Linked DNA regions of Homo sapiens. The protein of the gene in region 2 purifies or fractionates together with the protein of the main gene of each other region. This does not show direct contact. Each region holds a gene or a part of one and is shown on either strand. Other genes may lie near its edges.

Region 1 (3,816 bases), on a different chromosome or scaffold from region 2:
GAGTTGTTTCCACTATTTTGGCTATTATGAATAACGTTGCTATGAACATGAGTGTACAGTTGCTGCATGAATATGCTTTCCATTCGCTTAGGTATATACTTATGAGTGCAGTTGCTGGTTCATAGAATCACTGTTCAACTTTTTGAGGAACTGCCAATCTGTTTTCCAAAGCAACTGCATCACTTTACATTCCCACAAAGGTTCCAATTTCTCCACATCCTTAATAACACTTATTATTGTCTTCTTGATTCTAGTCATGCCAGCGGGTGTGAAATGGCACCTTGTTGTGGTTTTGATTTGTATTTTCCTAATGACTAATGACGCTGAACATCTTTTCGTATGCACTTATTGGCCGTTTGTGTATCTTCTTTGGAGAAATGTCTATTCAACTACATCGTTATTTTAAAATTGAATTATTAGCCTTTATTAAGTTACAGTAGTTCTTTATAGATTCTGGATATTATACGCCTATGAGATATGTGATTTGCTAACATTTTCTCATTCTGGAAGCTGTCTTTTCACTTTTTTTTTTCTTTTGGTAGAGACAGGGTCTCACTATGTTGTCCAGGCTGGTCTTGAACTCATGCCCTCAAGCAGTTCTCCTGCCTTGGCCTCCCAAAGTTCTGGGATTATAGGCATGAGCCACCATCCCCGGCTCACTTTCTTGACAGTGTCCTTTCAGCCTAACAGTTTTTAACTTTGGAGAAGTCCAGTTTATCTATATTTTTTTTTACTTTAGTTTTTTGCATTTTTGGTGTCATGTCTAAAAAACCACTGCCAGATCCAGTCATGAAATTTTAAATCTGTATTTTCTTCTAAGAGTTTTACAGTTTTAGGTATCATATTTAGGTCTTTGATCCATTTTTAATTTTTATAAAGTGTATGGAGATTCCATGAACTCTTTAAAACCCCATTAATTCCTTTTTTTTTTTTTTTTTTTGAGACGGAGTCTTCCTCTGTCGCCCAGGCTGGAGTGCAGTGGCGCGACCGCAACTCAGTGCAACCTCCACCTCCCGGGTTCAAGCCATTCTCCTGCCTCAGCCTCCTGAGCAGCTGGGATTACAGGTGCCCACCACGCCTGGCCCTAGAAGCCTGATTTTTAAGATTTTAAAACAGGCTGGGTGCAGTGGCTCATGCCTATAATCCCAGCACTTTGTGAGGCTGAGGTGGGCAGATCACTTGAGGTCAGAAGTTCGAGACCAGCTTGACCAACATGGCAAAACCCTGTCTCTACTAAAAATACAAAAATTAGCTGGGCATGGTGGCACATGCCTGTAATCCCACCTACTCAGGAGGCTGAGACAGGAGAATCGCTTGAACCCAGGAGGCGGAGGCTGCCATGAGGCGAGATCGAACCACTGAACTTCAGCCTGGGTGACAAGAAGAAGATTCCATCAAAAAATAAATAAATAAATAAATAAATTTTCAGACAAAGCAAGACAGGGAGTCCTTTTATCCAACTCAGTTTGGTAAAATAAGGTGCAATTCCTTCTAAATATTTTGACTTATTACCTCTAAAAAGAACACTAAAAACTGGTTTTGTTTCATGTATAAAATGATAAAATTATCTCCAATCTTTGTGGGATTCCATACAAGGCATGGATGCCACAGAACACAGCTTTTATAGTAGTGATGCAGGAAAAAAATAAATTCAAAACACAGTGGTAATTTGTACATATAAAGTCCTCAACATCATTTCTCTCTCATAGACACACAGTGAAATGGGGTTAAGACAACTGTCCTGAGTAGGGTCCATAAACAGACATTGCGCAGAAGAGTCAAATGTTATGGAAACCTACAAGCTGTAAATGAATATCCCTGTTACATTTGGCATGCTAGTTTTGACAGCCAAATCATGCTAGTTGTGATAGTTAAATTTTAGGAAATTCCAAATACTGTGGCACATACTAGGGTACTCACAGGAGAGAGTTTCTGGATAAGGTCATGGGCAACATGGACCAGGTTCTTGTCTTCATGGAGACATTTCTGAAACTTTTTGCTCTCCTCATCTTCTAAAAGATCAAAATCAATGGCAGCATCCAGTAAGGCCTGAATTAACCCCTTCCAGGATTTGAGGGCTGGAACTTGGGGCGCAACTGCAGCACTAATGCCTGTTCCAATCACTAGCACAAGTTCTCGAGGCTTCTTAGTTTTTAAGCTTGGAAGCAGCTTCCTATAAAAGCAAAACAAATGAGAGGATTGGAATATCCAATAGATATGAGGCACACAGAAAGACTGTCTGACTCAGGTTACAGTTTTTAGCTAACTTTTATAGTTGCAAAGAAGATGAACAGCAGTTTTTGACACCTTTCCAAAGCAGTTTAAAGAAAACAACCAGAATATTGTGTCAGTGCTTGCTGAAAAACAAGTCATAAACCTATTTCAGGAATCCCAAAACCAATCTTAAAATCAGTTTTCCCTTCCTAGTCCTCTCAACCTAAGAAATTCCACTAATATTAGGAAAAGATCCAAATAGACTATAGCTCAGCTGACTTCTGCCAACTAAATTATATTTTAAACCAGTATTAAATTTCAAAAGAAGACGTTTGATTTGTACTCTAGAAAAAGAGAAAAGAACCCCAGGACAAATTAAGTTCCTATTATTGAGAAATGTAAAACACTAGGGGAAAGGCAATACAAAATTTAATTCTGAATTTTGTAAACATTAACCTCAGGCAAAAAAAAAAAAGAAAAAAAAAGTGGCCAATAGAATTCTGAAAACACAGGGGCCCTACATACCTAAATAAAGACATTAACTAATCAAAGGACATGACAAAAAGTGAAAAACATTCCTTTCTTACCATGATAAGCAGAGACAGACTTCTCTGTTCTGAGGCCCATATGTGAGACAGCATGGGTGCTAATTTTTGTTTTTGTTCCCCTCTCTTTCATTCTGGAGACTATCCCTGCTTGAAATATGTTCCTTCACATTAATTTTTGCTGATGGCATGTTCCCCTCCCCTGAAAATGGCTTCTCCCCAACCTTTTTGTCTAAATAATAAAATGGAGAGGATCAGCATTTTGGCATAACTCAAGAAAGGAATAGCACTTTCAAGCCTTGGGAAACCTGGTTTTGGGGACACAGCCTCTAAAACTGCTTTCCCTAACCCGAGCTTCTGCATTCAGTCATTCAACAAATATGAAAAACCGAGGCCAGGAGCAGTGGCTCACGCCTGTAATCCCAGCACTTTGGGGGGCCAAGGTGGGCTGATTACTTGAGGTCAGGAGTTCAAGACCAGCCTGGCCAACATGGTGAAACTCTGTGTCTACTAAAAATACAAAAATTAGCTGGGTCTGGTGGCGCACACCTGTAGTCCCAGCTACTAGGGAGGCTGAGGCAGGAAAGGAAAACCTGTATGTACCAGACACTACGGGAGTCATGTATCCATGAACAAAATGGAGTCCCTGATCTTGAAAGATCAGTCTACTAGAAAAGACATTAATAATAGATGTTAGAAGCAAATGATGAAAAATGAGTTTCAGTTCAGAGCAATCAAGATAGTGAAGCATACACAAATCCACATAAACAAATATACACACACATAGAAAATTTCTAGGATTCACAAGATGTATAAATAGTGGTTAAATGGGGATAGCAGAGAATAAGGACTTTTTACTTTTCATTTTATACTGTTGTACTGTATTTTTTTATATAACATACAGATTTGAACTATAATTCTTCCTAATTAAGACTTCCAATTTGGCTAAGTGCAGTGGTTCATGCCTGTAATCTCAGCACTTTAGGAGGCTGAGCTTGAGCCCAGGAGTTTGAGACAAGCCTAGGCAACTTAGTGAGACCCCATCTCTGCCAAACAA
Region 2 (4,492 bases):
CACAGGCTAAAGTAACTAAGCAACACACCTATCTATCAAAAGGCAGGCACCGGCAAAAGATCAGGCAGCCTTGCGAAGAGAAGGGGAAAAAACACATAAAAAGACCCAAGGTACACCGAAGCCATGCTAATCTCATTTGGCAGAAGTCAGCCCACTCTCCCCTCTCCGGGAATGTAATACTGCGCTTCACACACTTTTGCTGCTTGCTTTGCTGTCTGAGTATCACATCCAGTTCTTTGTTCAGGACACCAAAAGCCTGGAATTGCACAGCACCATCGGGTTATAAATGGGTCTCTGCATTTTGTGTCTTCTAAGGCCACAGAGAACAAATGGGTAGTTTTAAAGGGGCACAAGAGGACTTCCAGAGGGTATTCTTCCAGGTTTAGCACAAAGAGAACAGGCAGTAACTCCCAGCTCTCAGTATCTCCCCAGAAGGCATTTGCCTGCACACTCTCTCAGCTGCTGCTAGAGAACAGGGCTTCGAACTGGCCTGCAGGTAGGAGATGATGGGGCTGATGGAGAATGGGTTTGACCACACACCTGACACCTCAACTACATTTCACAGTACTTAGAATAGAATGGACTCCATTGCACAGTACCTAGAATAGAAGTAGGTATTCAAAAAATAGTTTTTAAATAAAAGAACAAATTATTTTAATTCTTTCTAATAAAAGTTTATGATATCCACATTTACTAGCACAAATTGTGTGATTTTGAAAATTCTGTTCATGTCAAGCTAAGTCATCTTCTGTAAGATCACAGGTAGCATTTTTGTCATTTATCTTGCCACAATAAAATATTTGAACTGTCTGGCACAAGTGGCAATATCTCCGCTCCCTGCTGCTCAGACACTTCCGCAAAAAACCTGCACCTGATTGGACAACGTGGCCCCGGAGAACAGGTAAGTGGCAGAGCTTTGTTTCTATATCAGCAACATCAGTTTTAATGTAAACAGCAGGCGTCTTTCTTTTTAGAGCAGTAGCCTACTTGTGTTTCCATATAATTACAGTATTCTTGGCAGAAGCCTTCACTTCTCCTGCAGTCAACAACTTTTAAATCTGATGCAGGTTCTGCATTAAAAAAAGAAAAAATCCAACATTAGCTTCTTAAGACCATCTCCAGAATCAAACAGTGGTCATTTGAGCCGTGAGGGACAGGGTGGGGGTGGCATGGATATGAAACAGCTTTCCATAGTTAATAGCTTCAAGTTCCAAACTAAAACATCAACTCCAGATATATAGCTCTGCCCCACTAAATCTCCTTTAACCAAAGGAAGGAATAATCCTGTCTCACAGGAATACTGTTAGACTAAATAACACACGCCTACTATTGCACCTGTTTATATTTGTTGTGTAATAATTGAGTTTTCTTTTTCCCTTCCCTTGGGAGGAGATCCAGATGAATGAGTCCTTTGGAACTGTGGGCCAATTAGAAAGGGATGGGAGGTTGGGTAGGATGCTGCAGGCATCAAATTCAGCAGGACTTTATTTGCTGGATGTCACAGCAATTTGCCAACACCCTCCTGTCTTTCTTGCTCTTGCCCACTGATCTGCTAACCTAGTTCTCCCTGTCTTAGGGTCAGCAATCAGCTTGGCATTAAAGAAGCATCTTGGAAACTACAGGCTCTTCCAGGCCCTTTTGGATTTGAAGCTGGTCCTGCCCAGGGGTTTGGGGGCTGACCAGAAGCCTGGCCCTTCTGGAAGAGTCCAGAAGAGTGGCTGTGGGCTCAATTGTCCCTTGCCATGTCCTGCTACCTCCTTGCCTGAGTAGACTGACAATACAGTCTATTCTCTGCCCCCATCCTCAGGAAGCATTTCCCAGACCTCAATGGACACCTGAAACTTAGTAGGTAGGTATTCAGTAAATTCCTTGAACGGGAACGACCTCCAAAGCTAAGGGCATGGGGCTGCAACCTGGCAGGAGGCCATGTTTCCACCAGTGTCTCCTCTGGCACCTGTTCTTGGAGGAAGCCAGCAATTACTGGTGTGGCTTCAGATAAATTGCCTTTTGGCCCCTCAATACTCCCACGTTCCACAAGGCCCTCAATGATCCAGCCCCAGGGGAAGCTGTGAGACCCCGTGGTCTCCCTGACAGGCAGGGCAGCCCAATGCACCCGCACCATGTCTTCCCCAAACAATGACTGCTCACCCACCCCGACCAGCACAGACATCTTCCCGTCTATTTGTTCCCTCTACGTCTCCCCAGTGGATGCACTTGTTGCACGTGTTGGTCCCTGACTCACCTTGGTAAGGTGGGGTGCGCGGTGGTAAGAGGTCCCGTTTCACTGCGTGGCGTAGCAGCTGAAACCCGTTTGTGCCTTGCCCAGGGGCTCTTTCCCTGAGTTCTCCGAGAGCCTCAGTGGCTGAGTGGTTCACATGTCTGGCTTGAGACGATCCTGTGCAAGTGGAAACACACGTCTGCGGATGCTCTGAGGCCTCCGCCTGGCAGACCCGTCAGCATGAGGCACCTACACTCTACCAGGTGAGTGAGCATGGGTGATTGGGTGGGGGAGTTGGGAGGGGTGCTAGTGTTCCGTGTGTGTGCACATTTGTGCACATGCGTTGTATGCACCTATGTGTAGAGAGAGAAGGTGAATGAAGTGTAAGAAATGTATGCCATGAATGGTGAGTCTGAGCACCTCCTCAAAGCCAGCACAGCCAGAGAATTTATTTCAAGTGTCACTAATGCAGTTGTTAAGATTCCCTAAAATGTAATGTTCTTCTCTGTAAGGGAAAGGGGAATGTTAAAAGGATAAGAAAATGGAGTCGGGGAGGGACACTCTTCCCTGGGAAGCAAGTGCCATCAGCCAATTCAGAGTGCCATTTATGAACCCAGTTCAGAGACTCGTACCCAAAGCTCCACCAGGAATACATGCCCCAAGGACTTCATCTCTCCCTGTCCAGCCTGGACTCCCATACCTCAGATGACCATTGCAGAGAGATTCTGGCACCCAGACCCGGGTCACCTTTCCATTTTACCTGGAAACAGCAGGGCCACAAGGAGAAGGCTGGTGACGGACGGGAGCAATCGTTGCCTCATGTCTGCCAAGAGCACTGCAAGCCAGAAAGCACCCAGGGTGGGTGGGCAGGCAGCGGGGCTCCTTTGATGGAGTGAGGCTGGGTGTGTGGGCCCGGAGCGTGGGAAGAGCTGTGCTCCAGGATGACTTCTCATTCTCAAAGGACAATGTGGACACGCTACTATCCCACTGCTGGTGGAACAAACACTTGAGACACATATTTCAGGAAGTAAATAATACGCCTGAATGCCTTGGGTGGGTTTGGTGAATAAGGAAGAACAGAGAGAAACAGAAAGATGAAAGGCATGGAGGGGCAGAACAAACATAACTATCATAAAGTTGCCAATGTCCTCAAACGCTTCTCAAAAGCCCCCTAATGTTCATGAGAACAGGGACATAAATAAACTGCCATGTCGATTCTATCCTGTTGGCTGAGCGTTTTTATTTTAGTGTTAAAAAATCATGCATAAGACACACAACATAACAGGTAGGACCTGGTTTTACAAACTATCCCTTCCTGAAGTTATACAGAGAGTTCCAAGGCTGCTCAAAATGTTCTTTTCTTTTTCTTCTCCTCTCTGAGTCTCTCTCCCTGTTTCTTGGTCCCCTCCACTTCTCCTTCCTCACTTTGGACCCCCCTCCTTTCTATTTTAACTTATTTGAGTTGTCTTGATTTTTCTCTCCCCTTTCCATTCTCTTTACCCCCAGACACCTCCTGTTGATGTCACTGGGTCCAATTCAATTCTTTTAAAAAAGAAAAAAAAAATCTGTGTTTGAGTCTGGGTTTTCTCCTCTAGTAATATCCAAGCAGAGGACTTGTCTTCCCTTCTCCTTCATCTTTTTAAGCATTTTAACCAAGTGTGTGTTTCTTACTTGGCTGCATTAGCTCAGGTATGCATGTAACCCAGACAGTCTGCTCTGGACTTAACTAAAGTGAAGAAGGCTTTGGTTGAAGAGTTTTGTATTCACATAGCATCCAATGTAACATCAGTGATGTCTGGAAAAGATAGTGCTTATCTCATATGTCTCATTTGCATGTATATTTTAATCCAGACAGAGAAAACAACTTAGGTCATTTGTGTAAATAAAAATACTTACTCTCTACCTGGAGAAAGCTGGAAGCAAATGGAGAAAGAGGCAGCAATGACAATAGAGACCTGGGCATCCGCTGAAGCACCAGCAAAGGGCGGAAGGTTTGCAGCTGCGGACAGTTGCACATAGCAGCTGCCCTGGCAGCACAATGCGGAGGCCACTATCTTTTGGGTCTCAGGACAGATTCTCCACTGCAAAGCATGAGGTGCTGGTCAGGGAGAGCAGGAGCATCATTCACATCCTTTCACTTTAAGGAATTAGGAAGTCTTCCAATTCCAAGAGCACAGGGCAACACTGCGGAGATAGGTGACAACTGGCCCATGATAAGTTTCTTTAATCACTTACTGCATCAAATTCTGATAATTGGATGTTGGAAGAACATAG

The links.
Region 1: the proteins of SPAG11A (region 2) and FAM118B purify together in Homo sapiens (affinity purification with mass spectrometry, with the first as the bait; one large-scale study listed by BioGRID). This does not show direct contact.

What each region holds. Positions count from the first base shown.
Region 1 is NC_000011.10:126,239,149-126,242,964, reverse strand, and holds part of FAM118B (protein FAM118B), read right to left. Parts: intron 2,174-3,816; coding exon 1,921-2,173; intron 1-1,920. UniProt on the Homo sapiens protein: May play a role in Cajal bodies formation.
Region 2 is NC_000008.11:7,846,594-7,851,085, reverse strand, and holds the start of SPAG11A (sperm-associated antigen 11A isoform 3 precursor), read right to left. Parts: upstream 3,079-4,492; 5' UTR 3,040-3,078; coding exon 2,979-3,039; intron 2,396-2,978; coding exon 2,243-2,395; intron 1,071-2,242; coding exon of another isoform or gene 943-1,070; intron 1-942. UniProt on the Homo sapiens protein: Has antimicrobial activity against E.coli. Plays a role in the defense response in the male reproductive tract, contributing to sperm maturation, storage and protection.